Homo sapiens: one gene and its partners. The main gene of each other region encodes a partner of the protein of the gene in region 2 in a complex. Each region holds a gene or a part of one and is shown on either strand. Other genes may lie near its edges. The genes, in order: SPTSSA, ORMDL3, SPTLC1 and SPTLC2. A codon is read from its position in the direction of its gene.

The links.
Region 1: the proteins of ORMDL3 (region 2) and SPTSSA are in contact, whole or in part, in a cryo-EM structure (PDB 7CQI), measured with the Homo sapiens proteins. Residues at the interface, in NP_001307730.1 of Homo sapiens: Val36, Leu38, Ser39, Ile40, Pro41, Phe42, Ser44; in NP_612145.2 of Homo sapiens: Ile44, Tyr50, Thr51, Val54, Phe55.
Region 3: the proteins of ORMDL3 (region 2) and SPTLC1 are in contact, whole or in part, in a cryo-EM structure (PDB 7K0N), measured with the Homo sapiens proteins. Residues at the interface, in NP_001307730.1 of Homo sapiens: Gly92, Val93, Gln94, Phe95, Thr96, Ala97, Lys100, Thr103, Ile104, Ile107, Tyr110, Phe111, Ser114, Tyr119, Gln121, Phe124, Thr128, Leu131, Met132, Leu139, Pro140, His143; in NP_006406.1 of Homo sapiens: Ala16, Leu17, Ala20, Pro21, Tyr23, His24, Leu27, Glu28, Leu31, Ile32, Trp34, Ile35, Leu38, Leu39, Ser41, Lys42, Thr43, Tyr44, Lys45, Leu46, Gln47.
Region 4: the proteins of ORMDL3 (region 2) and SPTLC2 are in contact, whole or in part, in a cryo-EM structure (PDB 7K0O), measured with the Homo sapiens proteins. Residues at the interface, in NP_001307730.1 of Homo sapiens: Met1, Asn2, Val3, Gly4, Thr5, Ala6, His7, Ser8, Pro12, Val16, Ser19, Arg20, Gly21, Ile22, Leu24, Ser25, Leu28, Phe63, Val67, Lys68, Gly69, Thr70, Pro71, Phe72, Glu73, Pro75, Gln77, Arg81; in NP_004854.1 of Homo sapiens: Glu65, Thr66, Pro67, Met68, Ala71, Val72, Tyr75, Tyr86, Gln116, Phe118, Glu119, Asn120, Phe121, Tyr122, Tyr127, Trp134, Asp259, Glu260, Leu261, Asn262, Val267, Arg271, Ile279, Met320 (codon at 5,009), Val495, Val496, Gly497, Phe498, Pro499, Ala500.

The regions. Positions count from the first base shown.
Region 1 is NC_000014.9:34,451,890-34,459,466, forward strand, and holds part of SPTSSA (serine palmitoyltransferase small subunit A), read right to left. Parts: intron 1-7,577. UniProt on the Homo sapiens protein: Component of the serine palmitoyltransferase multisubunit enzyme (SPT) that catalyzes the initial and rate-limiting step in sphingolipid biosynthesis by condensing L-serine and activated acyl-CoA (most commonly palmitoyl-CoA) to form long-chain bases.
Region 2 is NC_000017.11:39,924,214-39,931,873, reverse strand, and holds the start of ORMDL3 (ORM1-like protein 3), read left to right. Parts: upstream 1-4,272; 5' UTR 4,273-4,390; exon of another isoform or gene 4,391-4,445; intron 4,446-4,871; exon of another isoform or gene 4,872-6,251; intron 6,252-6,502; exon of another isoform or gene 6,503-6,705; intron 6,706-7,068; exon of another isoform or gene 7,069-7,119; intron 7,120-7,648; 5' UTR 7,649-7,660. UniProt on the Homo sapiens protein: Plays an essential role in the homeostatic regulation of sphingolipid de novo biosynthesis by modulating the activity of the serine palmitoyltransferase (SPT) in response to ceramide levels.
Region 3 is NC_000009.12:92,104,837-92,112,413, forward strand, and holds part of SPTLC1 (serine palmitoyltransferase 1), read right to left. Parts: intron 3,999-7,577; coding exon 3,904-3,998; intron 1-3,903. UniProt on the Homo sapiens protein: Component of the serine palmitoyltransferase multisubunit enzyme (SPT) that catalyzes the initial and rate-limiting step in sphingolipid biosynthesis by condensing L-serine and activated acyl-CoA (most commonly palmitoyl-CoA) to form long-chain bases.
Region 4 is NC_000014.9:77,550,510-77,558,086, forward strand, and holds part of SPTLC2 (serine palmitoyltransferase 2), read right to left. Parts: intron 6,638-7,577; coding exon 6,532-6,637; intron 5,011-6,531; coding exon 4,791-5,010; intron 1,714-4,790; coding exon 1,587-1,713; intron 1-1,586. UniProt on the Homo sapiens protein: Component of the serine palmitoyltransferase multisubunit enzyme (SPT) that catalyzes the initial and rate-limiting step in sphingolipid biosynthesis by condensing L-serine and activated acyl-CoA (most commonly palmitoyl-CoA) to form long-chain bases.

The DNA of each region.
Region 1 (7,577 bases), on a different chromosome or scaffold from region 2:
CTGCAGGCTACTGAATGAAGCCCCAAACAGGAAAGCTTCCTTATTACTGTAGTTTTCTTTTCCTTTGACCTCAAAAAACTGCAGATCATCACCAACAGAAATGTAAAGAAAGTGCCTAGCGTGGTGGCTCACGCCTGTAATCCCATGCCAGCACTTTGGGAGGCCGGGGCGGGCATATCACCTGAGGTCAGACCAAAAAAAATACAAAAATTAGCCAGACGCAGTGACGCACACCTGTATTCCCAGCTACTCGGGAGGCTAAGGCATGAGAATTTGAACCCGGGAGGCGGAGGTTGCAGTGAGCCAAGATCGCGCCACTGCACTCCAGCCTGAGCAACAGAGTGAGACTCAATCTCAAAAAAAAAAAAAAAAAAAAGAAAGTTAATTTTTCCTAGATATATCAACTATCTCTTGATACTTTTCCAGTTTTCTTACATTGAAACAAGTGGAAAATATTATACTGTCACAATATTATACTGTCACAGTCCTCTGTATGTTAACCAATTTGATATTCAAGGGTCATGTTAAAGGATAGCACATCACCATCAGAAATTAGTGTTTAGCAAGCAAAATCCATTCTCTAAGCTTTCTATAGTGTGCTGATTATACAAACCTAAGTATGAAAATTGTTTTTAGAAACTACAACTTGATGACAAGCTCTTTTAAAACTAAACAAACAACAAAGCATGCTGCTGAAATGAGTAATGATCACGGACTGAAAATTTTTCACTGTGGACTAAAATCCTGGAAATGGTTTGTAGCTCTAATCCCAGAGACACTAAGGTTATAGTGTCTCTGGCACACATTTATTGATTTGAGCTTCTATTACCCTCAGGAAGATTTGAAGTCCCAGTGTTATGGGGAAAAATTTCCCAGTCTGCTCTGAATTATAATCTGTTCTGCTACAGTACATGTTTCTGTAACATCAGATAACTCACATACGACTAGTACAGTACAGGAGCTATATTCCTTCATATGGGATATTTCATCATTTAGGGGAGCAGATTAGTGGGAAAATAATTAGGTGACCCTTGAAAACATGGGTTTGAACTGTGCAGGTCTACTTATACATGGATTTTCTTCTGCCTCTGCCACCCCTGAAACAGCAAGACCAACCCCTCCTCCTCCTCCTTATGATTTTCTTCCCTCTAGCTTACGTTACTATAAGAATACAGTATATAATACATATAACATACAAAATATGTTAATCGACTGTTAATGTTATCAATAAGGCTCCAGTCAAAAGTAGACTATTAGTAAAGTTTCTGGGGAGTCAAAAGTTGTACACAGATTTTCAACTGCCTGCAGGGTGAGGATGAGGGCCTGGGGGCAGTACTCCTAACCCCCAAGTGGATCAAGGGTCAACTGTATCACCTTCTGCAGGAAACATCTCTCAACTCAGCTGCTATACAGGCAGAAGTCCTTTTAACTCTATTTTAAGAAAATCAGAAATTCGCATTTGTACCCAGTCTCCCTCTTCAGAGAAAGGCACCTCCAGGGTAGCACAGCTCTCAGCCAATGTGGCAGGTGGCACTGGCCCTACACTGCCTCAATGGCAGCCCACACTGTCTGTATTACATCAGCACCTACTGCTGACATTTCCATTCAACTTTGTCCATGCTTTGTTCATGTCCCCTCGGGCAGCTTCCAGTGAAGCTGAGCTGCCTGCCTGTCTGGGACATCCAAGTTATTCCCTCAAGATGCCAAGTATTGTGTTTGTTAGTGCTTGCTTACTAAATTGCATACATTTTAAGTGGTCTGACTCAATAATATTTTCCTATAAACCATATTATTTTGCAGTTTTTCAGAAACATATATAATACATGCTGACCAAAACGCTTGTATTAGTAAAACTTCTATTTCTCATAACTATTGATCATAACTACTATTTTTTCAACATTCCAATTTATAAAAAGTATATATCCTCTATCAAGTACATCTTCTAGAACACATAGCTTAAATTACTAAATTTGAGCATTTGGGGTTTGTTCTTTTAAAAAAAAAAAGAGGCCAGGTCCGATGGTTCACACCTGTAATCCGAGCACTTTGGAAAGCTGAGGCAGGAGGACTGCTTGAGGCCAGGAGTTCAAGACCAACCTAGGCAACCTAGTGAGACCCTGTCTCTACTAAAAATTTAAAAATTAATCAGGCATGGTGGTGTGTGCCTGTAGTCCCCACTATTTGGGAAGCTGAGGCGGGAAGATCACTTAAGCCCAGGAGTTCAAGGGTACAGTGAACTAAAGATCATGCCAGCCACTGAACTCCAGCCTGGGCAACAGAGCAAGACCCTGTTTTAGGGGGAAAAAAAAATCTATCTTAGCTCCTATGTGCCATAAATGTTACAACACTCATAGTCTGGAGGAATCACAAAGTCTTTAAGAAAATGGAGACAGGACCTATAGTGATCACTACTCACAAATCACTAGAATCACATGCTGAAACACTGCTGCAGAATATCAATGTGTGGTCTGTTCCCACTGCCATTAACCCAACCATGACTTTCTCTGCCTGTCCTGGTATAGACCATTTAGTTCTTGTTAAGCACAGTTTTCATTATTTTCAACCTTTACCAACCAAAAACTACTAAAGAAAAAGTTAATATTCTAAGGAGTACAGTTAAGAGATATCCTAACATTCTCACTGAATCAGCCAAATATAAAGGCTAACATGTTAAACAGGCTAGAGCAGTTTTCTTCAAACTAAAGCAGTAGGGCCCTGGAGTTAACAAGACAACTTTCCAGGAGGTTAGGATAGTTTAAGGAGAATCCGGTTAAAGGTGGTCTGCTTCCACCGTACTCCCAGAGCTTGATCTGTCTGAGAATTCTTGTGGTTTGCTGGTTGTCCTTCCCATCCTCCCTTATAAATGTATTCACTTCTCCCACATTACTTCCTAATCTTACAATTGTTCATTTCCCAGACAGGTGCAGTGGCTCATGCCTGTAATCCCAGAACTTTGGGAGGCCAAGGTGGGTGGGTCACCTGAGGTCAGGAGTTCGAGACCAGGCTGGCCAACATAGTAAATCCCCTTCTCTACTAAAAATACAAAAATCAGCCGGGTGTGGTGGCAGGCACCTGTAATCCCAGCTACTCGTGAGGCTGAGGCAGGAGAATTGCTTGAACCCAGGAGGCGGAGGCTACAGTGACCCAAGATTGCGCCACTGCACTCCAGCCTAGGTAACAGATCAAGACTCCATCTTGAGAAAAAAAAAAAATAGGAGCCGGGCTAGGTGGCTCACACCTGTAATCCCAGCATTTTGGGAGGCCGAGGTGGGCGGATCACGAGGTTGGGAGTTTGAGACCACCCTGGCTAACATGGTGAAACCCCATCTCTACTAAAAATACAAAAAATCAACAGGGTATGGCGGCGGGCACCTGTAATCCCAGCTACTGGGGAGGCTGATGCAAGAGAATCGCTTGCAACCAGAAGGCAAAGGTTGCAAGGAGCCAAGTTCGCACCACTGCACTCTAGCCTGAGGAAAAGAGCGAAACTGTCTCAAAAAAAGAAAAAAAAAAGGAGTATATTTTTTATATATTCACAGAATATCTCAGGAGAGATGCATAGGAAACTGCTGACACTGGTTGTCCCAGGGTGGCCGAGGCAGGGGTGGAAGGAAGACTGTGTCACCAACTACCTTTTTGTATCTTTTGTGTTTTCAACCATAAGGATGTATAATCTATTTTATTTACAACTTAAAATTCATATTTTCCAAACTCCCAAATACTTTAATTAGTATATTGAGATGCAAAAAAAGTCCTTTTAGGCCAGGCGCGGTGGCTCACACCTGTAATCCCAGCACTTTGGGAAGCTGAGGGGAGAGGATCACGTGAGGTCAGGAGTTCAAGAACAGCCTGGCCAACATGGTGAAACCCCGTCTCCACTAAAAATACAAAAATTACCTGGGCATGGTGGCGTGCAACTGTAATCCTAGCTATTCAGGAGGCTGAGGAATGAGGATTGCTTGAACCCAGGAGGCAGAGGTTGCAGTGAGCTGAGATCATGCCAGTGTACTCCAGCCTGGGCAACAGAACAAGACTCCATCTCAAAAAAAAAAAGTCCTTTTTAATTCTAAGTTGTAAGTATCTGAGGATACAGCAAAAATCTAAGAAAATAATTTAGTTGCTACTGAAAATAACATACAGCTTAAAATGTGTGGCTGGGCGCGGTGGCTCACACCTATAATCCCAGCACTTTGGGAGGCGGAGGCAGGCGGATCACGAGGTCAGGAGATCGAGACCATCCGGCTAACATGGTGAAACCCCGTCTCTACTAAAAAAACAAAAAATTAGCCAGGCGTGGTGGTGGGTGCCTGTTATCCCAGCTACTTGGGAGGCTGAGGCAGAAGTATCACTTGAACCCTGGAGGCAGAGATTGCAGTGAGCTGAGATCGCGTCATTGCACTCCAGCCTGGGCAACAAGTGCAAAACCCTATCTCAAAAAAATAATAAATCAATAAAATAAAATAACAAATCAATATATAAACAACTGTTTTTTAAGCATTATTTGTGTGCCCAGCACTGTGGTTTAAAAGTGGGAAAAAAATGTTTTCAAGACACATGAACTGTCTTTCAGGGTGAATCTAATTCCTAACATAAACCAAAAAACTGCCCACATTTTGCTGAAAATAACATGCCATGGAAACATCATCAGCAGCAAAGAGATGGGCAAATATAGCCCAGTGATTATAGACTAATATGACTTTATTTTTTAATGAATAAAACAAGATTAGGCCAGGCGCGGTAGCTCATGCCTGTAATCCCAGCACTTTGGGAGGCTGAGGCAGGCAGATCACCTGAGGACAGAAGTTCAAGACCAGCCTGGCCAACATGGTGAAATCTTGTCTCTACTAAAAAATATAAAAATTAGCCGGGCGTGGTGGCACACACCTGTAGTCCCAGCTACTCGGGAGGGCAAGGCGGAACAATTGCTTGAATCCAGGAGGCAGAGGTTGCAGCGAGCCAAGATCGCGCCACTGCACTCCAGCCTGGGCAACACAGCGAGACTCCATCTCAAAAAAAAAAAGAAAAGAAAAAAGATTAAAATAGCACACTTCTGATTCAAATTATTATTATTATTATTATTATTACTATTATTATTATTATTATTTTGAGACGGAGCATTTGCTCTGTTGCCCAGGCTGGAGTACAATGGCACAATCTTGGCTCACTGCAACCTCCACTTCTTAGGTTCAAGCAATTCTCCTGCCTCAGCCTCCCATGTAGCTGGGACTACAGGCGCCAGCCACCATGCCCCACTAATTTTTTATTTTTAGTAGAGACAAGAATTCACCATGCTGGCCGAGCTGGCCTTGAACTCTTGACCTCAGGTGATCCAGCCACCTCAGCCTCCCAAAGTTGATTCAAATTATTTTAACAATCTATTTTTAATTTTCTCAACTCTCAACAGGAATGGTTACAACGTTATCCAAGTGAGGTACTTCAGGGCGTGTCTCACTGTTACAAAAGCCTATCTTGGTTACAAAACCTGGTCTTTTCTTTCCCACCTTGGGATGCCAGTAGGGAAAGGATACTTTTGAAAGGTATGTTAAAAATGTCTCCTCCTGAGATAAGGTCAGTGGTTCTCAGTCTATGGTAGGTCTCCTTTTGTAGTATATACTGTAATACTAATTGGCACTTATCAGATTCTTCTTTATTGTTACCTTTTGTCTTAATGCAGGTGTCATGTCCCATTTCTCTGTAAGATAGAAACATGTCTGCACATGGAAAAAGTTCAAATATTCCTTGACAAACCAAAAGCCAATGTATCACTTCAAATGTCTCATCAGAAGACAGATGGTAGCCCAGGCATCTTGGCTCATGCTTATAATCAATCCCAGCACTTCGGGAAGCTGAAGTGGGGGGATCACTTGAGGTCAGGAGTTCAAGATCAGCCTGGCTAACATGGTGAAACCCCACCTCAACTAAAAATACAAAAATTTAGCTGGGCATGGTGGCACGGCCTGTAGTCCCAGCTACTTGGGAGGCTGAGGCAGGAGAATCGCCTGAATCCCAGAGGCAGAGGCTGCAGTGAACCGAGATCGCACCACTGCACTCCAGCCTGGGTGACAGAGCAAGACTGTCTCGGAAAAAAAAAAAAAAAAAAACAAAGAAAAGAAAAGAAAAGACAGATGGTATATAGGCCCTAGTGAGGAAGAATTTACAAAACTTACTTATAAATCTTACTGTTTCAAGAACTATTCACAATGTGTCTGACTTGACCCAATAGATGCTTTTCCTTAAAAACACATCTTAAAATCTTTTTTACAAATTGCAATTTCCTTACATAGGTAAGTTCAAAAATACTTATATTCAATTGAGATTTTTTTTTCTTTTGAACAGGCTGTCACCTAGGCTGGAGTGCAGTGGCGCCATCTCAGCTCACTGCAACCTCTGCCTCCCAGGTTCAAGAGATTCTGGTGCCTCAGCCACCAAAGTAGCTGGCGTACACTACTACACCCGGCTAATATTTGCATTTTTAGTACAGACTGAGTTTCACCATGTTTTCTAGGCTGGTCTCACATTCCTGGACTCCAGCTATCTGCCCACCGCGGCCTCCCAGAGTGCTGGGATTACAGGTGTGAGCTACCGCGCCAGGCCTAAGATCGACTTTCTTTTTATTTTTTTTTTTGAGATGGAGTCTTGCTCTGTGGCCCAGGCTGGAGTGCAGTGGCACGATCTCGGCTCACTGCAACCTTTGCCTCCTGGGTTCAAGCGATTCTCCTGCCTCAGCCTCCCGAGTAGCTGGGACTACAGTCGTGCGCCACCACACTCAGCTAATTTTTTTTTTTTTTTTTTTTTTTTGGTAGAGATGGGGTTTCACCATGTTGGCCAGACTGGTGAACCGCCACCGCGCCCGGCCAAGATTGACTTTCAATTTACAACAGCTTTTAACTAACTTCTAGCTATTTGACTTGGGAAGTCAAGAAGCAAATAATTTCTAAACATCCATTCAGATGCTCAAGGATGCCCCTGGAAAGTACAGTGATAGTACGTTATCAATTTCCCCTGAAATTACAACTTTTTTTTTTTTTTTTTTGAGACGGAGTCTCACTCTGTCACTGAGGCTAGAGTGCAGTGGCGTGATCTCGGCTCACTGCAACCTCCGCCTCCCGGGTTCAAGCGATTCTCCTGCCTCAGCCTCCCGACTAGTGGGATTTCAGGCGTCCACCACCACACTCGGCCCACAACTTCAAATTTTTAAAAATGCATTATATAGCAGGAAATGTAAACTAATGCATCTATCCTCTTTAAGAAATTAATCTGGGCCAGGCGCGGTGGCTCACACCTGTAATCCCAGCACTTTTGGGAGGCCAAGGCAGGCGGATCACTTGAGGTCAGGAGTTTGAGACCAGACTGGCCAACATGGTAAAACCACCCCACCCCCACCCCACCCCCAACTCCGCCTCTATTAAAAATACAAAAATTAGCTGGGCGTGGTGGTGGGCACCTGTAATCCCAGCTACCTCAGAAGGCTGAGGCAGGAGAATCGCTTGAATCCGGGATGCAAAGTTGCAGTGAGCCAAGATTGCACCACCACACTCCAGCCTCGGCAACAGAGCGAGACACCGTCTCAAAAAAAA
Region 2 (7,660 bases):
TTCAAAACCAGCCTGGCCAACATGGTGAAACCCTGTCTCAACTAAAAATACAAAAATTACCTGGATGTGGTGGCGTGCACCTGTAATCCCAGCCCACTCGGGAGGCTGAGGCAGGAAAATCTCTTGAACTAGGGAGGCGGAGGTTGCAGTGAGCCGAAACTGCACCACTGTGCTCCAGCCTGGGTGACAGAGTGAGACTCTGTCTCAAAAAAAAAAAAAAAAAAAAAGTATAGAAAATAATATAAGGAACTTCATGTCCTCATCACACAGCTTCCATAATTATCACCTCATGGCTCATCTTATTATTTCCCTATGGTTCCCAGTCCAGATTATTTCGAAGCAAATGCAATCACTGTATCATTTCATCCACAGATATTTTAGTATGTATGTATGTCTGAAAGGAGGACTTTTTTTTTTTTTTTTTTTTTGAGACGAAGTCTCTCTCTGTCACCCGGGGTGGAGTACAGTGGTATGATCTCGGCTCACTGCAACCTCTGCCTCCCAGTTTCAAGTAATTCTCCTGCCTCAGCCTCCCGAGTAGCTGGGATTACAGGCACGTGCCACCATGCCTGGCTAATTTTTTTCTATTTTTAGTAGAGACGGGATTTCACCATGCTGGCCAGGCTGGTCTCAAACTCCTGACCTTGTGATCTGCCTGCCTCACCTCCCAAAGTGCTGGGATTACAGGTGTGATCCAACGCACCCAGCCAAGGAAGACTTTTTTTTTTTTTGAGATGAAGTTTCACTCTTGTCTCCCAGGCTGGAGTGCAATGGCACGATCTCGGCTCACTGCATCCTCCACCTCCTGGGTTCAAGCGATTCTCCTGCCTCAGCCTCTCAAGTAGCTGGGATTATAGGCGCCTGTCACCACGCCTGGCTAATTTTTGTATTTTTAGTAGAGGCGGGGTTTCACCATGTTGGCCAGGCTGGTCTCGAACTCCTGACCTCAGGTGATCTGTCTGCCTGAGCCTCCCAAAGTGCTGGGATTACAGGCATGAGCTACCACGCCCAGCCATGGAGGACTTTTTAAATTAAAAAAACAACCTTACCACAATTCCATATCACGCCTAAACATTTAGAATTCCTTAATATCGTTGAATACCTTGTCAGTATTCAAATTTGCCTGATAACTTAATAAAATCTTTTTTTTTTTTTTTTTTTTTTTGAGACAGAGCCTTGCTCAGTCACCCAGGCTGGAGTGCCAATGGTGCAATCTTGGCTCACTACAACCTCTGCCTCCTGGGTTCAAGCAATTCTCTTGCTTCAGCCTCCTGAGTAGCTGGGATTACAGGCGCCCATCACCACACCCAGCTAGTTTTTGTAGTTTTAGTAGAGACGGAGTTTCACCACGTTGGCCAGGCTGGTGTCAAACTCCTGACCTCAGGTGATCCGCCTACCTTGGCCTCCCAAAGTACTGGGGTTACAGGCATGCGTGACCATGCCCGGCCTTTTTTTTTTTTTTTTTTTTTTTTTTTTTAAAGTCAGTTTGCTTGAATCAGGATCCAAATAAGACTTTTAGTTGATATATCATTTAATTTATTTTAATCTGTAAGTCTCTCCCCCTCTTTTTTTTCCTTTTTTTTTTTTTTTTTTTTTGAGACAGGATCTCACTCTGCTGCCCAGACTGGAATGCACTGGCACGATCACAGCTCACTGCAGCCTTGACCTCCCGGGCTCAATTGATCCTCCCACCTCAGCCTCCTGAGTAGCTGGGACTATAGACACACCACCATGCCCAACTAATTTTTGTATTTTTTGTAGACCACGGGGTTTTACCATGTTGTCCAGGTTGGTCTCGAACTCCTGGACACAAGCCTTGGCCTCTCAAAGTGCTGGGATTACAGGCGTGAGTCACCATACCTGGCCCCAGTTTTATTTGTTAAGGGAATTGGGTGTTTGTCCTAATTTTCTTCATTCTAGACTTTGCTGACTATATCCCTGGGGAATGTATGTTATGCTATTTTGTGTCCTCATCTTTTCATATAACTTAGCAAACATTCCCCATACTGCCACAGGGTTTTCACAATCTGTCCTAAATGGCTTCATACTATTCCATCCAGTGGATATACTGTAATTTTTTTCTTGGGCATTTGGTTGCTTTCAGTTTTTCACTACTATAAATATTGCTGGAATGAACATCCTGACACATTGCAGCTTTTCCTGTACATGGGATGACTTCCTTAGAATATGCTACCAAAAGTGTAATTATGGCTCTGAGGCAAGAAGAATTTTTCAGCTTCTTGGCACACAGTGACAAGTGTTTGTCCAAGGGTTTGTATGTCCCCCAGCACGAAATAAGAGAGCTGTCACTCACTCTGAATAGTGCTTAGGGCTATTCACAGCTGAAGAACGTTTGGGGAAGATATGATAATTATGAGGGCCAAGAGAGAAGGAGAAAGATGACAACAGGGACTCCCGCTAAATAAAGCAGAAAGTGATCTGCAATTTACCACAAACCTAGAGTGAGTCAGAACTCTGTTCATTCCTATTGTGAAAAAAAAATCCTCGATAACAGGAGTTATTAATAGTGCATGACATGTTCAGTAATCTTTCTGTTAGACTCTGCATTAGTCAGAACCTTATTTGAGACGTGGACTCAGTCTGGGTCACTGAACTTCATAGAGATGTCAGGAAACTGACCAAGATCCAGAGGGATCGATCAACTTGATGGAGGATGAAGAATCCCAGAGAAAAATCAAAGGAGTCAAGCAGGCACACTTCGGAAAAAACAGAGACACCTTTCTTGCCTTAATGCTGGGGAGGTTTCTGTGAAAAGAACAACACTGGGTTTGCTTATGTCTGCAGAAAGATGACTATAAGGAAAGGCACCTCCACAAACCAGGAGAAACTTCCACAGGACATAGGCAGAGCTATTTCAGACTCAGATGATTATTTCGATCTTGGAATGAGCCCTTTTGGGGCCATTGGCCCTGGAAATATTGAAGAAGCTGCCTGTTCTGCTCTGGGTGGTTCAAATACCCACCTGCCTGGTGACCACTAAGTGCCTCTGGGGGTCCCACTCCAGCTGTGTGACAACTGTTTCCTGGCAGCCCCCTGGGGAAGGAAAGGTAGGTGTAGTCCGAGTAAAGTGCTCCGCAGTTTCCCTGGGCTAGCCTTTTCCTTCCTGTTCCCTCACTTTCAGTTCAGGGTGCCATGAACTGCCATTCAGAGTCAGGTTGGCATGCCATGACATCATCTGACCTTGCTATTCCAGCCCTGCCCTGCATAGAGTGGACTTAGAAAGAAGCTGGGTAAGGAGTTGAAACTACCCAGACAAGACCTCTTGGTGACATGGAGAATGGGAGTAACCGAGGAGACCTCAAGAGCCATTTAGTTCAACCTCCTACAGTAATATTAAGTAGATTCCTACAATGCAACAGGTGCTTTACATACATTCTTTTGGGTTCCCACAACCTTGGAGGTGGGGTTTCACAGGTGTGGAATTGGAGATTAAGACAAGTAATTTGCCCAGGGTCACACTGCCAATAAAGGAGGGCCTACCCCATGTCTACCAGGCAGTAAAGTCTGTGCCCTTGCCTTTAGACGATGCAGATGTGAAAACTGCAGACCAGAGCCTCTCATTCAAAGCCACACAAGCTGACCTGAGACAGAAACTCAGGCTCCTTACTACTGATGGAGGAATCTATGATACGTAGCCTCTTCTCACGTCAGGTGCGGGGCGGCCAAGGATGTGGCCCGGTCCGGGGCAGCCTGGGCCAAGCGTGACTGAGAAGGAGAAGGCAGGCTCCGTTCCGGGCCCTCCAGACCCTCATCCCAGCCAATGTTGTGAAAAGCGCTCTCCCAGGAGGGCCCAGCAGGGCAAAGGGCCGGGCTAGTCTGTTTCTGGAGGAGCCAATCTGGGGCCAGGGCGGAGGCAGCCAGGTGCAGTGGAAAAATCCTGCAGTTGGGGTCAGAATATTTGGGTTTCGATCCAGTCTAGGACCCAGCAAAGACCTACAGAAAGTTACTTACAAGTCCGAGTCTCCTCATCTGCAAAACTGGGGCACGGATAAAATACACTTGAAGGGCACAGAAGCAAAAGTTGGAATTGTTACGCACCAAAATTCTATCATCCGATCTGACCATCACGTCACGGTACAACTTCCAACCGTGCGTCCCCGAAGAGGCCGGGAACGGAGCCCAGGAAAAACTACAACTCCCAGGAGGCGTCGGGAGGGCCGGCCCGGAGCCAGCGGAAGAAACTACAACTCCCAGAAGGCGTCGGGCGTGCCGGCGCGGGGCGGTGACGTACGGGGACCGGCGCGGAGCGCTGATTCGGCCGGAGCTGCCAGCGGGGAGGCTGCAGCCGCGGGTTGTTACAGCTGCTGGAGCAGCAGCGGCCCCCGCTCCCGGGAACCGTTCCCGGGCCGTTGATCTTCGGCCCCACACGGTGAGCCCGGAAGGAACCAAGAGGCCCCAGGGCTACGGGAGGGGCGGGAGAGAAGGTGGGGGCTGCTGGGGAGGCGCCCCGGGCTGGAGAGACGGGGGCAGAGGGAGTGGGGGGTGGAGGGAGTGCATCAGCCGAGGGGGTGCATCGGCTGGGGAGGTGGCCAAGGAATAAAGTGCGAGCGGGAGGCCGGGGGTGGAACGTCGGGAGGAGCGCCTCGGCTAGGGGTGGGAGGCGGGGAGCGGCTCGGCTTCGGGGATAAACGTTTGGCTGCCTCCAGGGCTGGGTGAACGCGTGGAGATGGCTGTGGGGTCCCGGACCGGACCGGGTTCCGAGTGCGAAGACCCAGGCTGGGGAACAGAGCGGGACCCCTCCCCCCGGCCCCGCACCCGAGGTCTCACTCAGAAAACCCCAACAACAGTGAGGACTCCGCCTCTTCGCTCCTCCTCTCCTGTGCTTAGTGCGGGTTCGCCTGGGCACTCGCTTTCCGCTCCTACCGCCCTCCCCCAGTCGGGGTGGCTGGGCCAAAGTTGAGAGGTTATCAGCTGTGGTCCTGCAGCTTGGGGGGTGGGCGGAATGGACATGGCATTGTGACGTGCTGCCCCGGACTCCCCGTTGGGGTCCCCATCCAGGCCTGGATGTTTTGTGCTCCTCTTCCAGAAGACAGGAGGTTTGCTGTTGTGAGGGCTGCTCTTTCCTGGGGGAGGGAATGGGAAGGGCTCACCTGGTGGCTGCCCTGGTGGTGCTCAGCCTTGGCTTGAGTGTCTGGCATACTGGCTGGGCCCGGATATTTGTATGTGGAGCCAAGAGGGTGGGGCGGGAAGGAGGGGGAAAGAGCTACCAGCAAAAAAGTGGTTAACACAACAGAGTTGCTGCAGGCTCTGGTTTGAGGCAGGTTATGAAACCACATCAGGGCCCAGCACTAAGCAGCCACCTGCCAGCTATGGCAGCAGAAGTTTTCGGCTCAACTCCTGTAGACCTAGTCGACCTCTGCCAGCCTCTTCTCTCTGTTTCTCCCCATCTAGGGTAGGGGCCAGTTGGTTGTTTTACTAATGGAAGTGATATGTATCCATAGTCACACGAAAGTCTCAAGAGTGTTTCCTCATTGCCAGTCTTTTTGTTAGTTTATTGATCTCTTCTTTTTCAGGGGTCTCTGGTGGTTTCCTGCTCTCAGGGCACCTAGTGTTTAGGCTTCAGGAAGAAGCTTCTGAGGGTGTTGGCTAGGACCTAGGTCTAGGCTTTTCCTAGGCTCATCAAGTTTTGTTGGCTGCCCTGTGAAAGCCAGAAAGGCGTATGGGGTCCTGTGATCTGGGATTCCCCAAGGCTTTTGGCACTCCTGGACAAATACTAGGAAGGGTTAGTGGACTTTCTATACCAGCACCCCTGTAGGTGCGGGTTACAGAGAGGTGATGGGGTGGCAGTTTCAGGTCAGACTTGGGAAGCTCTTTCCCTCTCCTTAGTCAGAGTTAAGTCCTTCAGAGCCCTCACTTGTCAGCCACATGCCGCCCTCCCCTCTCAGGTGGAGGCTTTTGCGTAGCAGCTGTCCCAGGGGCTGCTAGAGTAACTGAAGCCCCAAGGCCCTGGGAAGATAAACAATCTGAGCCAGCTCTGGCTTTCTAGATACTTGAATTTCTGTTAGGCTCAATTATCCAGCCTAGTGGGCTGCGCTGATGGGTCCCAGGAGCATCTCTTCAATCAGAATGCGCCCCAGGCTGGCGCACGGGTGTTTGCTTGTTGGGATGGCGTGTTGTGGGTCACATTTTCTCTGAGGTCTCTAAGCTTGGAGCTGTCTGAGAAGAGGAAACTTGCTCCTGTTATCCTGGAAGTAAATAACTGGCCCCTGAGGACTCAGTCTCCTGTGCAGGTTTGGCTAGGATCCTAGTCAGAGATAGATAGCATCTGGGTCTGACGGGGTTGCTGCAGGGGCGTGAGGGAGGTGGCCTTCTGGGTACTTCTAGAATATCTCCATCTGGGACTCTTTTCTGCATTCCCAGGAAAGATGGGGCTGTTACCATGGTGATGACCTTACGGTCTTTAGCAAGCAGGACCCTATCTCAGATAGGGAGGTGAGCCAGTACACAGGTGCCATCTGTCTCCACTTTCTCCTGGTCACAGGGCCCTCAGGGATCTGGGGACAGCCAAACTCTGGATAAGGGGCAGATCATTCCACCCCTTCCTTCTCTACTTCCCTCTGCTCACTGTGGGTTGCGGCCACCTCCTGGTTCCTCCTGCTGCAGGACTCCTACCGTTGGTGCTGGGCAGGGGAAGGCATGGTGCTAATATACACCTGGAAACAGGTGCTGAGAGGGGAGACTGAGGTGAGGATGGGCAGGACAGAGAAGAACGGGGGCAGGAGGGAGGCCACAGGTTCGAGTCTGTGCCCTTAGGAGACATATGTTGAGGTGGATTCCAGCTCTCTATGGGAGTTACAGGTGTTGGCCACGTTCTCTATCCTCGCCTCTCTTGTGGGGAAAAGGGCCCTGGTGGTTTGGCAGTGGAGTGGGTAGCATCACAAGGGTTGGCCTGAGTGGCTGCCAAATGGAGAAAACATCCGGATGGGTTGTTTTGTGTCACCCAGGAGGGGTGCCTTCTAGGTCTGGGCAAAGGTTGTCCCTAGTCTGTTGTTTTCTCCTTTCTTCCTCCCTTCCTCCCTCCCCACTTCCCTCTTTCTACCTGATCAGTCCTCCTAAGTTGGGGTTTGGGGAGATCCAGAATTGAAAAAATCAGAGGAGGTGAGTGGATGCAGTGACCTCAAAATAGTTCATCCACTGCTGCCTGTACCCACAGGCCTCACTTCCTTTCCCTCCTGATGGGAAGAGCTTAAGAGCAGATGTCCCACATTAGGCCTTCAGTGAGACACAGTCCAGCAGGGGTTGTGCTGAGTGAGAATTCTCTCCCTGGGGCTTTGTCGGCAGAGGGTCCTCATGGGAGTGCCATAGGGGGTGAGGCTGGGGGATGGGCCTTGACTTCTCTGCCCTGGGGCTGCGTGCCTCTTGATGACCTGTCCTCCGATGCCCTGCCAGGGCCCTGTCCCAATGGGATGATGCATGGGGCAGCCTGTTGTTTATCCCAGCCCAGCAGCAGGAAATGAGTAGAGCTAAGTCCACATGGACTTTCTCCACTTTCCATGCTTCAGAATCAAAAGAGTGGAACTGCCTGGAGTTCTCAGGGAAACAAGGGCCTGCCTCCCAGCGGGATCCGAGGGTGAGAGGGGGCAGGGAAAGCAGTGTGACCTGTCTGACCTGTGCTGCTTGTTTGCAGAACAGCAGAGAG
Region 3 (7,577 bases), on a different chromosome or scaffold from region 2:
CTCAAGAGCTTGACAGAAAACAACCAGACTGACAAGGCCCAGGTGCATGCAGTGAGTTTCTACTCCAAGGGCCATGGAGTCGCCAGTTCACACAGCCCTGTTGGAGGCATCCTTCCCTTTGGGAAGCCTGACCCACTTCCAACAGTGCTCCCTGCCCCAGTTCCGGGCTGCTCCCTGTGGCCAGAGAAGGCGGCCTTGAAGGTGCTGGGTAAAGACCACCTGCCCAGCTCTCCAGGCTTGCTGATGGTGGGGGAGGACATGCAGCCCAAGGATCCTGCAGCTCTTGGATCAAGTAGGTCTTCTCCACCCAGAGCTGCCGGCCACAGGTCCCGCAAAAGAAAACTGTCGGGGCCACCGCTGCAGCTGCAACCGACCCCTCCCCTGCAACTGAGGTGGGAGAGAGATGAGGGGCCCCCACCGGCTAAGCTTCCATGTCTATCTCCTGAGGCACTGTTGGTGGGTCAGGCTTCCCAAAGAGAAGGACGCCTCCAGCAGGGCAACATGCGTAAGAACATGAGGTTGTTAAGTAGAACATCAAAATTCAGGAGACTAAGAGAGCTGCTTAGGAGGAGAAAGAAGAGACAGCAGGGCAGGCGTGGTGGCCCACGCCTGTAATCCAGCACTTTGGGAGGCCCAGGCGGGTGGATCAGGAGGTCAAGAGATTGAGACCTGAGGAGCATCTCTGCCTGTACCATCTGGGAAGTGAGGAGCGCCTCTGCCCGGCTGCTCCACCATCTGGGAAGTGAGGAGCGCCTCTGCCCAGCCGCCCCACCATCTGGGAAGTGAGGAGCGCCTCTGCCTGGCCACCGCACCGTCTGGGCAGTGAGGAGCGCCTCTGCCAGGCCCCCACCCTCTCTGGGAAGTGACGAGTGCCTCTGCCTGGCCGCCTCACAGCCCGGGAAGTGAGGAGTGCCTCTGCCCAGCCGCCGCCCTGTCTGGGAAGTAAGGAGCGCCTCTGCCTTGCCGCCGTCCTGTCTGCGAAGTGAGGAGTGCCTCTGCCCGGCCTCCTCACCGTCTGGGAAATGAGGAGCGCCTCTGCCTTGCCGCCGTCCTGTCTGCGAAGTGAGGAGTGCCTCTGCCCGGCCTCCTCACCATCTGGGAAATGAGAAGCACCTCTGCCTGGCCGCCGTCCCATCTGGGAAGTGAGGAGCACTTCTGCCCAGCCGCCACCCTGTCTGGCAAGTGAGGAGCACCTCTGCCCGGCCCCCTCACCGTTTGTAAGGGAGGAGCGCCTCTGCCCAGCCCCTGCACCGTCTGGGAAGTGAGGAGCGCCTCTGCCCGGCCCCCTCACCATCTGGGAAGTGAGGAGCGTCTCTGCCCGCTGCTGTGCAACCTTCCAAGTGTGAAGTGACAGCCTTGTGTGTGATCTTTCTGCCCTCCCCAAGTCTGCATTTTCGACATTAAAGTTTACTTTTTAATTAAAAAAAAGGAGATTGAGATCATTCTGGCCAACATGGTGAAACTCCGTCTCTACTGAAAATACAAAAATTAGGCAGGCATGGTGGCTTGTGCCTGTAGTCTCAGCTACTCGAGAGGCTGAGGCAGGAGAATGGCTTGAACCCAGGAAGTGGAGGTTGCAGTGAGCCGAGATCGCACCACTGCACTCCAGCCTGGTGACAAAGCAAGACTCCGTCTCAAAAAAAAAAAAAAAAAAAAGTAAGACATGGCAAACTGCAGTGGCACCCAGCCTGCCCCTGCTGTCTCCACACCTGCTGAGACTCCCTGCCCCTGGCCACCTACACTTCACGGATCCCAGCTCCTCGTCTTACTCTGACTCGGCCCACGTGCTGTTGGGCCCCTCATTTTGCCTGTCCCTCCACCTTCTCTCACACCAAGAATTGAGTAAAATTTGATATCCATAATTCCTAACTCTTCCCTGGCTCTTCCCACTGACCTTGCCCCCATTTTGGGGGTTCCACCTAATGAGAAAGGAGGCTGCTCTCATTCAGCTGCAGTTTCAGTGCCTCTGACCTCTGACCCATGCCCCACACATCCTAGCCCCACATCTTTCTCCTTCCAGCCTCCCTTCAGAAGGGAGCCTCCTACACCCATATGTGTGCATTCCTCTCCTCCTCTTTCCTCCCCTCCTCCTCTTCCAGCAACTTTACTATAGAAAACAAAAGACCCAAGTATGCAAGCAATATATACCATGTAAATGGGTAGTGAGATTAAGTATCAGCAAGATACCAAGCCTCCTAAATTAATCCATAAATTCAACACACTTCTAATAAAAAACCCAAATGCATTTTTTTGGTTAAATATGATCACCTAAACCTAAACTCACAGTGAAGAAGGGTCAAGAATAGTCTAGACAATTTTGAAGAACACGGAGATAGAAAAACATTCTAATCAACGTTTATTATAAAGCTGTGGTATACATGAATGAGTCTCTGGTATAAGGAGATACGAATATATCCAATGAATAAAAATAAAAGCCAGAAATAGACCCTTTAGAAGGGAATCTGGCTTACCAAAGAAGGGAAATTTCCAAGCAGTAGGTAAATACTGGATTATTCAACTAATAATGCTGAGACAACTGACCATCATATGGAAAACAATCAAATTAGATCTTTAGGGTAGGAAACGATTCCCTAAGACTTCAAAAGACCAAACTATAAAAGATTGGTAAATTTGGGCCAGGTGCGGCGGCTCACGCCTGTAATCCCAGCACTTTGGGAGGCCGAGGCCGGCGGATCACAAAGTCAGGAAATCGAGACCATCCTGGCTAACACAGTGAAACTCCATCTCTACTAAAAATACAAAAAATTAGCCGGGCATGGCAGCATGCGCCTGTAGTCCCAGCTCCTCGGGAGGCTGAGGCAGGATAATGGCGTGAACCCGGGAGGCGAAGCTTGCAGTGAGCCGAGATTGCGCCACTACACTCCAGACTGGGCGACAGAGCGAGACTCTGTCTCAAAAAAAAAAGATTGGTAGGTTTGATTTCAGAATATATAAAAGTTTTATAAGACTGAAGAGATCTACAGAAGTAAAGAATAGAAGCTCCTGTTTGATCAGATCAGAATCAGAACAATACTACTCAGGAAAATATCTTGTATCACATTTTAAAATAAACCAAGTATTTTTATGGCAACAGGCATATATGGTAAAATTATAAATATAGGCAAAGAAAACACAATCACCAACTTCAAGACAGTAGTTATCCGTATGAGAGGCAAGAGTAAGTGATGGATGTGAAGGAATTTCTTAAGATGCATTTGTAATATTGTATTTACCTGTAAAAGTAAGTTTGAATTAAAAATAGCAAAATGTTAACACCAATTAATTCTGGGTGGTAGGTATATAGGTGTCTGATATCTATATCTATATCTGATAACTTTCTATATTCTTACTGTATTTCTTAATTAATGAAAATACATACAATATAGCAAAGATAGCCAAGAGAATGAAAAGTAAAAAATAGATGAGACACTGGAAGCAAGGAGGAAAGAGGCATAAGTGAGCGGAAGCTCCATAATTCATATTGTGGGGATCAACAGGTGTTGTCTGTAGTTGATGAATCAACAAATGGTAGTTAAGCATACTATACAGTATCTAGAATTATGAGGGTAACGTGCGACAAATTTAAAATCAGAAAATAACCAGATGGGTAAAAAGCAGAAGTCTGTTGCTTTTCATTTTAAGTGTTCGACCATTGGAAATATTAACATGTGTGCATTCTTGGAAAAAAGGGCAAACATTAATGCTTAAATTGGAGATTTTAAAAAATGCCTGTATCATCCCTAGAATAAATTTTTTAAAATCAGGAGCTAAAGCTGTTACTCCTGGGAACTTCAAAATGTTTTGTTTCAGATAAAAAAAGGACTACTACATATAAAGCACTATAGACTGCAGGTTACTACAAGAAGCCAAATACAAGTACTTCAGGTAGCAAAATCAATTTACCCTGAAACGATGTTGTAGTTGAGAGCAGGATGGTCTTTTGGGACAGGAGGAACAAGAGGTTCTGGTTGCCACTCTTCAATCAGTTCTTCTTTTTCCTACAGGAGAAAAAGAATTAAAATACAGTGCAGTGCTAATATTATCAATTATTAGTGTCTCTGCAACTTCAGTATTTCTTATTATTCTAATTCTACTAACTATTCTCAAGTTCGCTGTCACTCTTATTCAAGCTTATGTCTTCACACTATTAGTACGTCTTTGTTCGCATAATACATAATGACCCACCAGACACATGCCTACCATAGAGTTGTACCTAGCCCTTGACCACTAACAGGAGCTCTCTCGGCTCTCCTAATAACATCTGGCCTAACCATAGGATTTCACTTTAATTCTACCACTCTTTTAACTTTAGGCCTACTAACCAACACACTGACTATATATCAATGATGACGTGATATTGTCCGAGAAAGTACATTCCAAGGCCACCACACAGCAATTGTCCAAAAAGGCCTCCGATACAGGATGCTCCTATTATCTCAGAAGTATCCTTCTTCGCCGGTTTTTTCTGGGCATGCTATCACTCCAGTTTAGCACCAACCCCAGAATTAGGAGGACATTGACCCCCAACAGCTATTCTTCCCCTGAACCCTTCAGAAGCACCTCTCCTAAATACGTCTATATTACTTGCATCAGGAGTTTCAGTGACTTGAGCCCATCACAGCCTAACAGAAGGTAACCAAAAACAAACAATTCAAGCACTACTTACCACAATCCTCTTAGGAGTCTATTTCACCCTTCCACAAATCTCAGAATATTTCGAGGCCCCCTTTATTATCTCTGATGGAATCTACAGCTCAACATTCTTTATAGTCACAGGCTTTCATGGACTTCATGTTACTATTGGATCAACAATTCTCACCATCTGCCTTCTCTGCCAATTAAAATTTCATTTTAGGCCGGGCATGGTGGCTCATCCCTGTAATCCCAGCACTTTGGGAGGCCGAGGTGGGCACATCACCTGAGGTCGGGAGTTCGAGACCAGCCTGACCAACATGGAGAAACCCCGTCTCTAATACAAATACAAAATTTGCTGGGCGTGGTGGCACATGCCTATAATCCCAGCTACTCGGGAAGGCTGAGGCAGGAGAATCGCTTGAACCTGGGAGGCGGAGGCTGCGGTGAGGCAAGATTGCGCCATTGCACTCCAGCCTGGGCAACAAGAGCGAAACTCTGTCTCAAAAAAAAAAAATTCATTTTACATCCAACCACCATTTTGGCTTTAAAGACGCCACTTGATATTGACACTTTGTAGATGTCGTATGACTATTCCCATGTGTCTCTATCTACTGGTGAGGGTCCTACTACTCTTTTAGTATAAGCAGTACCACTGACTTCCAATCAACTAGTTTCGACAAAGTCTGAAAAAGAGTAATTAACCTAGCACTAGCCCTAATAACTGACACTTTATTAACTCTATTATTAGTAGTAATTACATTTTGACTTGCATAACTTAATACTTACATAGAAAAATCCAGCCTTTATGAATGTAGATTTGATCCATTAACCTCTACCCACCTCCTCTTCTCCATAAAATTCTTTCTAGTAGCCATCACATTTCTCCTATTCGATTAGAAATCGTCCTATTCCTACCCCTGCCATGAGCCCTTCAAACAAATAACCTTATACTAATAATCAGTACAACCCTTCTACTAATTACCATTCTAATCCTAGGCCTAATTTATGAATGAACCCAAAAAGGATTAGATTGAGTTGAACTGGTAAATAGTTTAAATTAAATGATTTCGACTCATTAGATTATGATAGACCATATTTACCAAATGCCATTTATTTATATTAACATTATATTAGCATATACCATAGCACTGCTGGGAGTACTAATCTATCGATCCCACCTAATACCATCTCTATTATGCCTAGAAGGCATCATACTATCAATATTTATCATAAATACACTCATAATTTTAAACATGCATTTCACTCTAGGATTCATAATACCCATTATCCTCTTAGTATTTGCTGCCTGCAAAGCCGCAGTAGGCCTTGCTTTCCTAGTCTCAATCTCCAACGCATAAGGCCTAGACTATGTACAAAATCTAAATTTACTCCAATGCCAAAAATTATTATTCCAACAATTATACTGTTACAATATAACTCTCCAAAAACTCTATAGTCTGAATATAGCTACTCATAGCCTATTCATCAGCCTCATTACCCTATTATTTTTTAATCAACCAAACAATAATTCATCTAACTTCTCATTAACTTTTTCTTCTGACGCATTAACATCACCTCTTCTAATCCAAACAGCCTGACTACTACCTCTTATAATCCTAGCAGGCCAACATCACCTATCTAATGAATCACCCTTATGGAAAAAAACTCCGTATTTCCAAATTAATTTTCCTACAACTTTTTTAAATTACAGCATTTACAGCCACAGAACTAGTCATACTTTACATTCTTTTCGAAGCTACACTCATCCCTACCCTAATCATTATTACCTGCTGAGGTAACCAACCAGAATGCCTAATGCAAGCTCATACTTATTTTACACACTAGTAGGATCCCTTCCCTTACTTATTACACTCATCCACACCTGAAATAGCTCAGGTTCACTAAATATCCTAATAATAATGTTTACTAATCAAGAACTATTAAACTTCTGATCTAACAACCTTATATGACTAGCATGTATTATGGCTTTTATAGTAAAAATACCCCTATACGAACTTCACCTATGACTCCCTAAAGCCCACATAGAAGTCTCTATTGCCAGCTCAGTAGTTAGGAGGCTACGGTATCATATGACTTACCCTCATCCTCAGCCCCCTAATAGAATATATATCCTACCCCTTCCTCATACTATCCTTATGAGGAATAGTTATAACAAGCTCTATTTGTCTAAGACAAACTGATTTAAAATCACTTATCACTCATTCCTCCGTAAGCCACATAGCACTTGTTATTATAGCTATCCTTATTCAAACCCCCTGAAGCTTTTCAGGCGCAGTCACTTTACTTCAACTTCGGCAATATCAAAATTGTCTGCTGCAATGCAAAAGTCACAGTGAATACACTGCTAGAAATACCATGTCTCGTTGTGGCTAGAATAAAAACAATCACTTGTGAGTTTTGTGCACTAACCACCCTCGCCTCTTTCCTTATCACTAGAGCTAGAGGTTCTTTTCCATGTAGTTTTGTGGGTGACTTGACAATTTATGAAAATTTAACTTCTATGCTCAGAATTCTTTTTTGATTTACCATACACATAAAAATTCAATTTGAGATGGGTATGAGTAGGATTCTTTTCTACTCTGACTCTCCTTTAAGAAGACCACAGGGGAATCTTTATCCCATACTTCAGAAATAGTTGTGCTATTCTGCAGCAACTCACACAACACTTATGAATATTCAAACTCCAGTAGTTGCCCATGCTTCCCTCTAACCATCTATTTGCAAGACTGCTGTTTACTCCTAGCAAAGTATCCAAGACCATAATATGGTCTTCATTTGGGTACTGACTTTATTTCTAGATTTCCCCATATTTTGCCTACCCTAATAATTCATTCCCCTTGATTTCCTTACATTACAGAAAATGCTTTAACACACATGGTTGAGCCACCACAAATCCTTTCTGGAAAGACATAGCAACTATA
Region 4 (7,577 bases), on a different chromosome or scaffold from region 2:
GATTGTGGTGAGCCAAGATCATGCCATTGCACTCCAGCCTGAGCAACAAGAGCAAAACTCCATCTCAAAAGAAAGAAAAGGAAAGGAAAAGAAAAGAAAAGAAAACAGTCAGCTGGGTGTGGTGGCTCACAGCTGTAATTCCAGCACGTTGGAAGGCCAAGGCAGGCAGACTGCTTGAGCCCAGGGGTTCAAGACCAACCTGGGCAACATGGTGAAACCCCATCTCTACAAAAAATACAAAAAAAATGGCCAGGTGTGGTGGCAGACTCCTGTGGTCCCAGCTACTTGGGAGGCTGAAACAGGAGAATCATGTGAACCTGGGAAGCGGAGGTTGCTGTGAGCTGAGATCGCACCACTACACTCCAGCCCGGGAGACAGAGCAAGACTCTGTCTCAAAAACAAAAACCAGAAAAAAAAAAAAAGAAAGAAAGAAAACAGTCTTAAACCAACCAAAATCAGATGTGCCACTTTATTCGATGCAAGCCAAATCAATCTTACAATAAAGTATTACATAACTGTAGAGTGGAGAGCTCATGGCTGATAATGTGAAATCTTTTACAAATGCCAAACTGACTTTACAAGCATTAAAAAAGCAACAACTGGGCCGGGCACGGTGGCTCACGCCTGTAATCCCAGCACTTTGGGAGCCCGAGGAGGGCGGATCACGAGGTCAGGAGATCGAGACCATCCTGGCTAATGCGGTGAAATCCCGTCTCTATTAAAAATACAAAAAAATTAGCCGGGCGTGGTGGCGGGCGCCTGTAGTCCCAGCTACTCGGGAGGCTGAGGCAGAATGGTGTGAACCCGGGAGGCAGAGCTTGCAGTGAGCCAAGATCACACCACTGCACTCCAGCCTGGGTGACAGAGTGAGACTCCGTCTCAAAAAAAAAAAAAAAAAAAAAAAGCGACAAGTGAAATTATTGTCTCATACATGCAATGAAAATATTTTTTAAAGTAAAGACAGACACCCAGTTGCTCCCCTTTTAGTACCACTGTTCTGCAGTCAATACTGCCCTCTGGTGTTGCAGAATAAAAGTCAAATGTCAGAAAGTGAACACTGAACTTCACTGTTCACAGTAGTATGTTTAAATCAAGGCATCTAGTTGGGACTACAAATCCCATCAAAGACAAAATAAACTGATTCAGGATGTCATTTATTATCTACCGTATATGAAAGTAGAAACTCTTTAAAAAGGCATTAAATCAGGAATACTAATTTATGAAAACAGCAGCTCTTAACTATGCTGTTAATGAAACATCACTAACAGTGAATTATACCTTCACATAAAATTATGTAATTCAAGAAAAACCTCGAAGGTATATTACCTCTGAGTTAAGAGGGTATGTAGGATAGTAAGAGTAAAGCCTCCCATCTATAAACAAGAAAATTCCATAGAAAGTGAGCCAGGGTCGTTCTCATGGCATATGTATCAAACACACTAAAAAAGTGTCCATGGAAACCACACACCAGCCAGCTCTGCCTATTAGTAAACCTGACTATTTATTTTAGGAAAAAAGCTCAAGAAAAACAGCACGTTTGGCTGCTAGGTGGACTTATGCAATGTTTCAAGAAAAGAAAGACTTACCAAGGCTGGTGCCATCCTGCCCCATGATGCACTTCATGGAGGTGATGATCTGCTCCACTACAGGAGGTGACAATGACGTGGCATACACTGCACTATGAGAATGTGTTCGCAGGTAGTCTATCAGCTCCTGGGGAGTTCACAGAGGCAGATAAGTAGAGACAATTCTTGCATTCACCGGCAATGTCAGTCCTTTCCTTCTAAGTTCTAGAGGACTCCTCACTTCAATGGCACTGGAATAGGGACACTAATCTGAGATACAAGGTCAACCAACATGGTCGAAGCATACCGCTGGCAACAACTGGGTCAGAAACATGGCAAAGTTCTTAGGTTTGGTTTTGTTTTTTAAACATGGAACAACATAAGAGAAAAACTAGTTTTAAAACAACCCCTCTAAATTTGGAGAATGTATCATTTAAAGTTAGAAATATGGCCGTGCATGGTGGCTCATGCCTGTAATCCCAGCAGTTTGGGAGGCCAAGGTGGGTGGATCTACTGAGGTCAGGAGTTCAAGACTGGCCTGACCAACATGGTGAAACCCCATCTCTACTAAAAATACAAAAATCAGCTGTGCGTGGAGGCGGGCACCTATAATCCCAGCTACTTGGGAGGCTGAGGCAGGAGAATCGCTTGAACCTAGGAGACGGAGGTTGCAGTGAGCTGAGATTGCGCCATTGCACTCCAGCCTGGGGGACAGAGTGAGACTCCGTCTTAAAAAAAAAAAAAAAAAAAAAGTTAAAAATAAATGAACACAGCTGAATTAAACAAGGTGTTTGGATTGCTTTTTAGATATAATGATTTAATTCCAAGTATCACAGAAAATGTCATCTGCAGCTCTGTGTGCCTATAAAGCCCATCCTTCTACCCCTAAATAACAGTTCTCTAACATCAACTTTAAGAGCATTAGAACTTCCTCCAGATATGCAGAAATGTATAAAATGATATAAATGTGAAATAGAAACTTACAAGGTATTTTATTAAAATGCCAATGACATCTCACTGAATAAAGTAAAACTCTGTCATTTACAAGGATTTCAAAAAAACTTAATTGTATATCCCTATTCTCTGATATCTTTTAATTTCACCAAATCTTTAAAATGCACACACAAGAAGCTTATGTACCAGAACAAATTAGGGGGACACAAATGTGGCTATGAAACAGTTTTATCTCAAAAATATTAAAAATTGTACTAAAAAAACCAAAAGCACAAATATATTGTACTTTAATGATCTCCCAGAGTATTATTTTTCTATCCTTTGGTTCACAGCCACAAAGCTTACTAAAAAACAACTCTCCAAAGTGAGCCTGGTCCCATTAACAAAAAGGTAATATTTGAGATAAAAATCTATCAAACCTGGCCAGGTGCAGTGGCTCACACCTGTAATCCTAGTACTTTGGGAGGCCGAGGCGGGCAGATCACGAGGTCAAGAGATCGAGACCATCCTGGCCAACACGGTGAAACCCTGTCTCTACTAAAAATACAAAAAATTAGCTGGGCATGGTGGCACGTGCCTGTAGTCCCAGCTACTTGGGAGGCTGAGGCAGGAGAATCGCTTGATCCCAGGAGGCGGAGGTTGCAGTGAGCCAAGATTGTGCCACTGAACTCCAGCCTGGCAATGGAGTAAGGCTTGGTCTCAAAAAAAAAAAAAAAAAAAAATCTATCAAAGCTGATTAAAAGTCACTGAAAATGAGTTCTCTCTAACAGGCAATCAAGTATTAAAAGAATGACCTTTTTTTCTGTGATAGGGTCTTGCTCTGTTGCCCAGGCTGCAATGCAGTGGTGTAATCACGGCTCACTGCATCCTTGATCTCCCAGGCTCAAGCAATCCTCTCATCTCAGCCTCCCCCATAGTTGGGACTACAGGCATGTGCCACCACCACACCCAGCTAATTTTTTTACTTTTTTGTAGAGATGAAGTCTCACTATGTTGCCCAGCTGGTATTGAACTCCTGGGCTCAAGTAATCCTCCCACTTCAGCCTCTCAAAGTGCTGGGATTACAGGTGTGAGCTACTGTGCCCAGCATAACCATTCTTTAATACTCCGAATATTGAGTGGTGAAGCAAAATTAAGAACATTTATGAGCACCTCCTCTGTGCCATATACAAATACCTGACATACATTATTTTTTCCCTAACATTGCAATCAACGTTTAAAAATAACAGCTTCATTGTGATATAAGCCACATACACAGAATTCACCGTTTTAAAGCACAATTCAGTGGTTTTTAGTATATCCAGAGTTGTGCCACTTTTACCACTAATTTTAGAACATTTCCATAACCCTGAAAGGAAACCTCATACCCATTAGCATTCACTTTCCATTTCCCTATCCCCTCCGCCTCCGGCAACTACTAATCTACTTTCTGTTTCTATGCTTATTCTAGGTATCACATATTTTAAAACATGCAATATGTGACTTTTTGTGACTTTTTTCACTTACCATAATGTTTTTAAGGTGCACCCACGTTGTAGCATGGACATATATTACTTTTTAAACCCTTACTACAATCTTACAAGCTGGGCATATTTATCTCCATTTTACTGACAAGGAAACTGGGAGGTTAAATGTTTTCCCTGAGGTCTAACAAAGTAAGCCGAGAAATATTCAGACCCAGGCCTCTGTCTTTATGGTTCACCATTTCGACCACACCACAGATTCTTACCTGCATCAAAATTCACCGTATGATTTTTTTCTGACTACAAAGACCCAGAAAAGGCAACTTCATAGTTTAAAAATTGAAAAATACAATGCTTTGTAGTACCCCACAGCTGGCACAACTTTTTTGCTTCCTGTCTCCATGTTCACTCATGATATATTTGTGTCCAAGGGCAAGGTGACCTGCTATTCCCATGGGCTCCCATGACAACCCCACTGTTTTTGAAACTGTGAGCACAATGCAAACCCAACAGAAGGCTGGGGCGGGCAGGGAGCACCACTGTGTGTTCTTTCACACAAGAGGGTATTCTATATCTCAGATCAGCATGTAGCTTAGAAAGAAGCTCAAATAAGAAAACAACAAACAATGAACAGAACCAGCCTTTAGTTCAGTGAGGAGACATTAGAGTCACTCACTGGTATTATGAGCCTAAACCAGAGGCAAATTTGCGGACATCCCAGTTCAGGGCCCCATCTGCTAGGCCTGAGGTACCAAATCTAATTGCCAGTGACTTTATCTCTAATCGCTCATTCTCATGGCTCGTTTACCTTCTTGCCTCCAATATATCCTCCAGAAGCACCAAAACTCTTTGTGAACGTTCCCATCATAACATCCACATCCTCGGGATCCAGGCCAAAGTACTCCACCACACCCCGGCCTGTGGGGCCCAGGGCGCCAATGCTGTGAGCCTCATCCAGATACAAGTATGCCTTGTATTTCTTCTTGAGGGCAATCACTTCAGGAAGACGAACAATAGATCCCTCCATGCTGGCAAAACATGAAAAAATATATATATACACATATACACTGAGACTTTTTAAATCAAAATTGGGAGTTTGGCACTTCATTATTATTGAGTTTACTGCTTCTTTTTTTTTTCTTGGGACAGAGTTTTGCTCCATTGTCCAGGCTGAAGTGCAGTGGCATAATCTCGGCTTACTACAATCCCTGACTCCTGGGTTCAAGCGATTCTTGTGCCTCAGCCTCCCAAGTAGCTGGGACTAGAGGTGCCCGCCACCACCACGCCCAGATAATGTTTGTATTTTTAGTAGAGATAGGGTTTCCTCATGTTTCCCAGGCTAGTCTCGAACTCCTGGCCTCAAGTGATACACCCGCCTTGGCCTCCCACAGTTCTGGGGTTACAGGAATAAGCCACCCTGCCCGGCTGAGTTTATTGGGTTTTAAATGGTCTGACAACTGTATCTGTGGCTTAAACTGACAAAGGTAGATGAAGCCATGGCAAGGCAAAAGACTAGGGGAAAGAAAACTGGACTTTTAAAACAAGCACTGGCTGGGCGCGGTGGCTCACACCTGTAATCCCAGCACTTTGGTGGGCTGAGGTAGGCGGATCACTTGAGGTCAGGAGTTCGAGACCAGCCCGGCCAACACAGTGAAACCCCGTCTCTACTAAAAATACAAAAATTAGCTGGGCTTGGTGGCACACACCTGTAATCCCAGCTACTCGGGAGGCTAAGGCAGGAGAACCGGGAAGCGGAGGTTGCAGTGAGCCGACATCCCGCCACTGCACTCCAGCCTGGGTGACACAGCGAGATTCCATCTTAAAAAAAAAGCCACCCAAACCACCAAAAAACAAAAAACAAGCACCAAACACAAGCAATCTTAATTCACGACAAAAATAATTAAGGTCACAGCAGATTCTTCTAAAGCTTGTAATTACAGGCAACATGAGACTTTGCATCACGTTGCACAGGCAATTAAAATGACACAAAAGAACAAAAAAAATTAGGTGGTAAAAATACGTGTAAAAGCTGTAAAGGTTAACCAAAATAAAATATTTCTTTTTAATTTTTATTTATTTTTTACAGAGACAGGGTCTCACTATGTTGCCCAAGCTGGTCTCAAATTCCTGGCCTCGAGCGACCTCCCACTTTTGCCTCCCAAAGTGTTGGGATTACAGGCGTGAGCCACTGCACTCAGCCTAAAATAAAATATTTATTAAAATTAAATGGTGTGTAATTTGTTTTGACATATTAAAATATATATTCCAATTCTTGCCCCTACATATAGGTTCCCTCTACAAACTAGAAAAATAAAAGACTCAAATAGAAAGGGGATTTGGTGACCATGTAGTATTATGGAAAGAATAACGAAGAACTAGACAAAAAGACTTCTGTTCTAATGCTGACTCTGTTTCCAGGTATTTTAGCGACTTATAAACACTGTCTCCTTAGTTTCCAGAGGGGGATAGACTAATGTTCCCTTCAGTTAAAAAATTCTATGACTTCATGGGGCCAAGTCACAAAGGTAAGAATAATAAAGCAGGATTACCTATATATTCCTTCCACAAGGATGAGAATTTTCTTCCAGGGCCTTCGTGTCCGAGGCTGACCATAAACAATGGCATCTTTCAATAGCTTCTCTAGGCTTTGCATATCTACAGAGCACAAAAAAGAACAGTTATACCGCATCTTCCTCTTTCCTAACTTTATTCCGGAAATGCAGAGATATATTTCTCATTCAGAAACCATGCCTCAGATAGCAAAGGACATAATTAGAGTTGGGCAGAAAAAAGCAGGGCAAAATAGGTGAATTATTGCCACCTTGAATTGAAATCCAAAATGTAACAAATGTTCAAAACCATCGAAACTTGACTAAAGGACGGTGGTGGCTAACTCAGTTCATTAGCTTCCTTATAAAATGACCAGTGTCTCATGTTAAATACCCTGCCATTAAGTTAGCTTCTGTGTGTTTATCGAAAAATACAGAATCAAACTGTATCTCTAATCCCAGTGAGTCATTCGGAAATAAATGCGTAAAAAAGACAGAGCGAGAGAGTGTGAATAAACCATCACAGACACATACTCCTCCTAAAAAAACAAACGCAAGGCGTAAAAAAACTTCACAGTGCGTGCTCCATTTCCTTTCACCCAGGACGTACTCAATAAACGCTTGTTAAAGAGTTTTATTTTGGTACTGGGTTAAAAATACACCCGTCTGGGGCATGTATAAGTCTGTGTGTTAAGCAAGCCTGACAATCAGTTGAAATTGTTCCATGTTTGACTTCATCAGTTGTCCATAAACAACCAAGTTCTTGTGGCTCTGTTGGTTCTTATGGTGGTTAATGGGCCTGGAAACAACTTGGCTGCTACTGCCATTAATGATGATCATAATTTCCTTGTTAAAGACAAATGCTTTGAAGACCATTGTTGCCACACTACAGATTTCATACTTAAAATACCTGCCCTGAAATGAAGTCCTTAAAAAAAACTCCCCCAAATTTAAGCAACATTAAGTCTGGGGAATACTTAATAGGGGTGGGAGACATCCTATCATAAAATCTTTTTTTTTTTTTTGAGATGGAGTCTCCCTCTGTC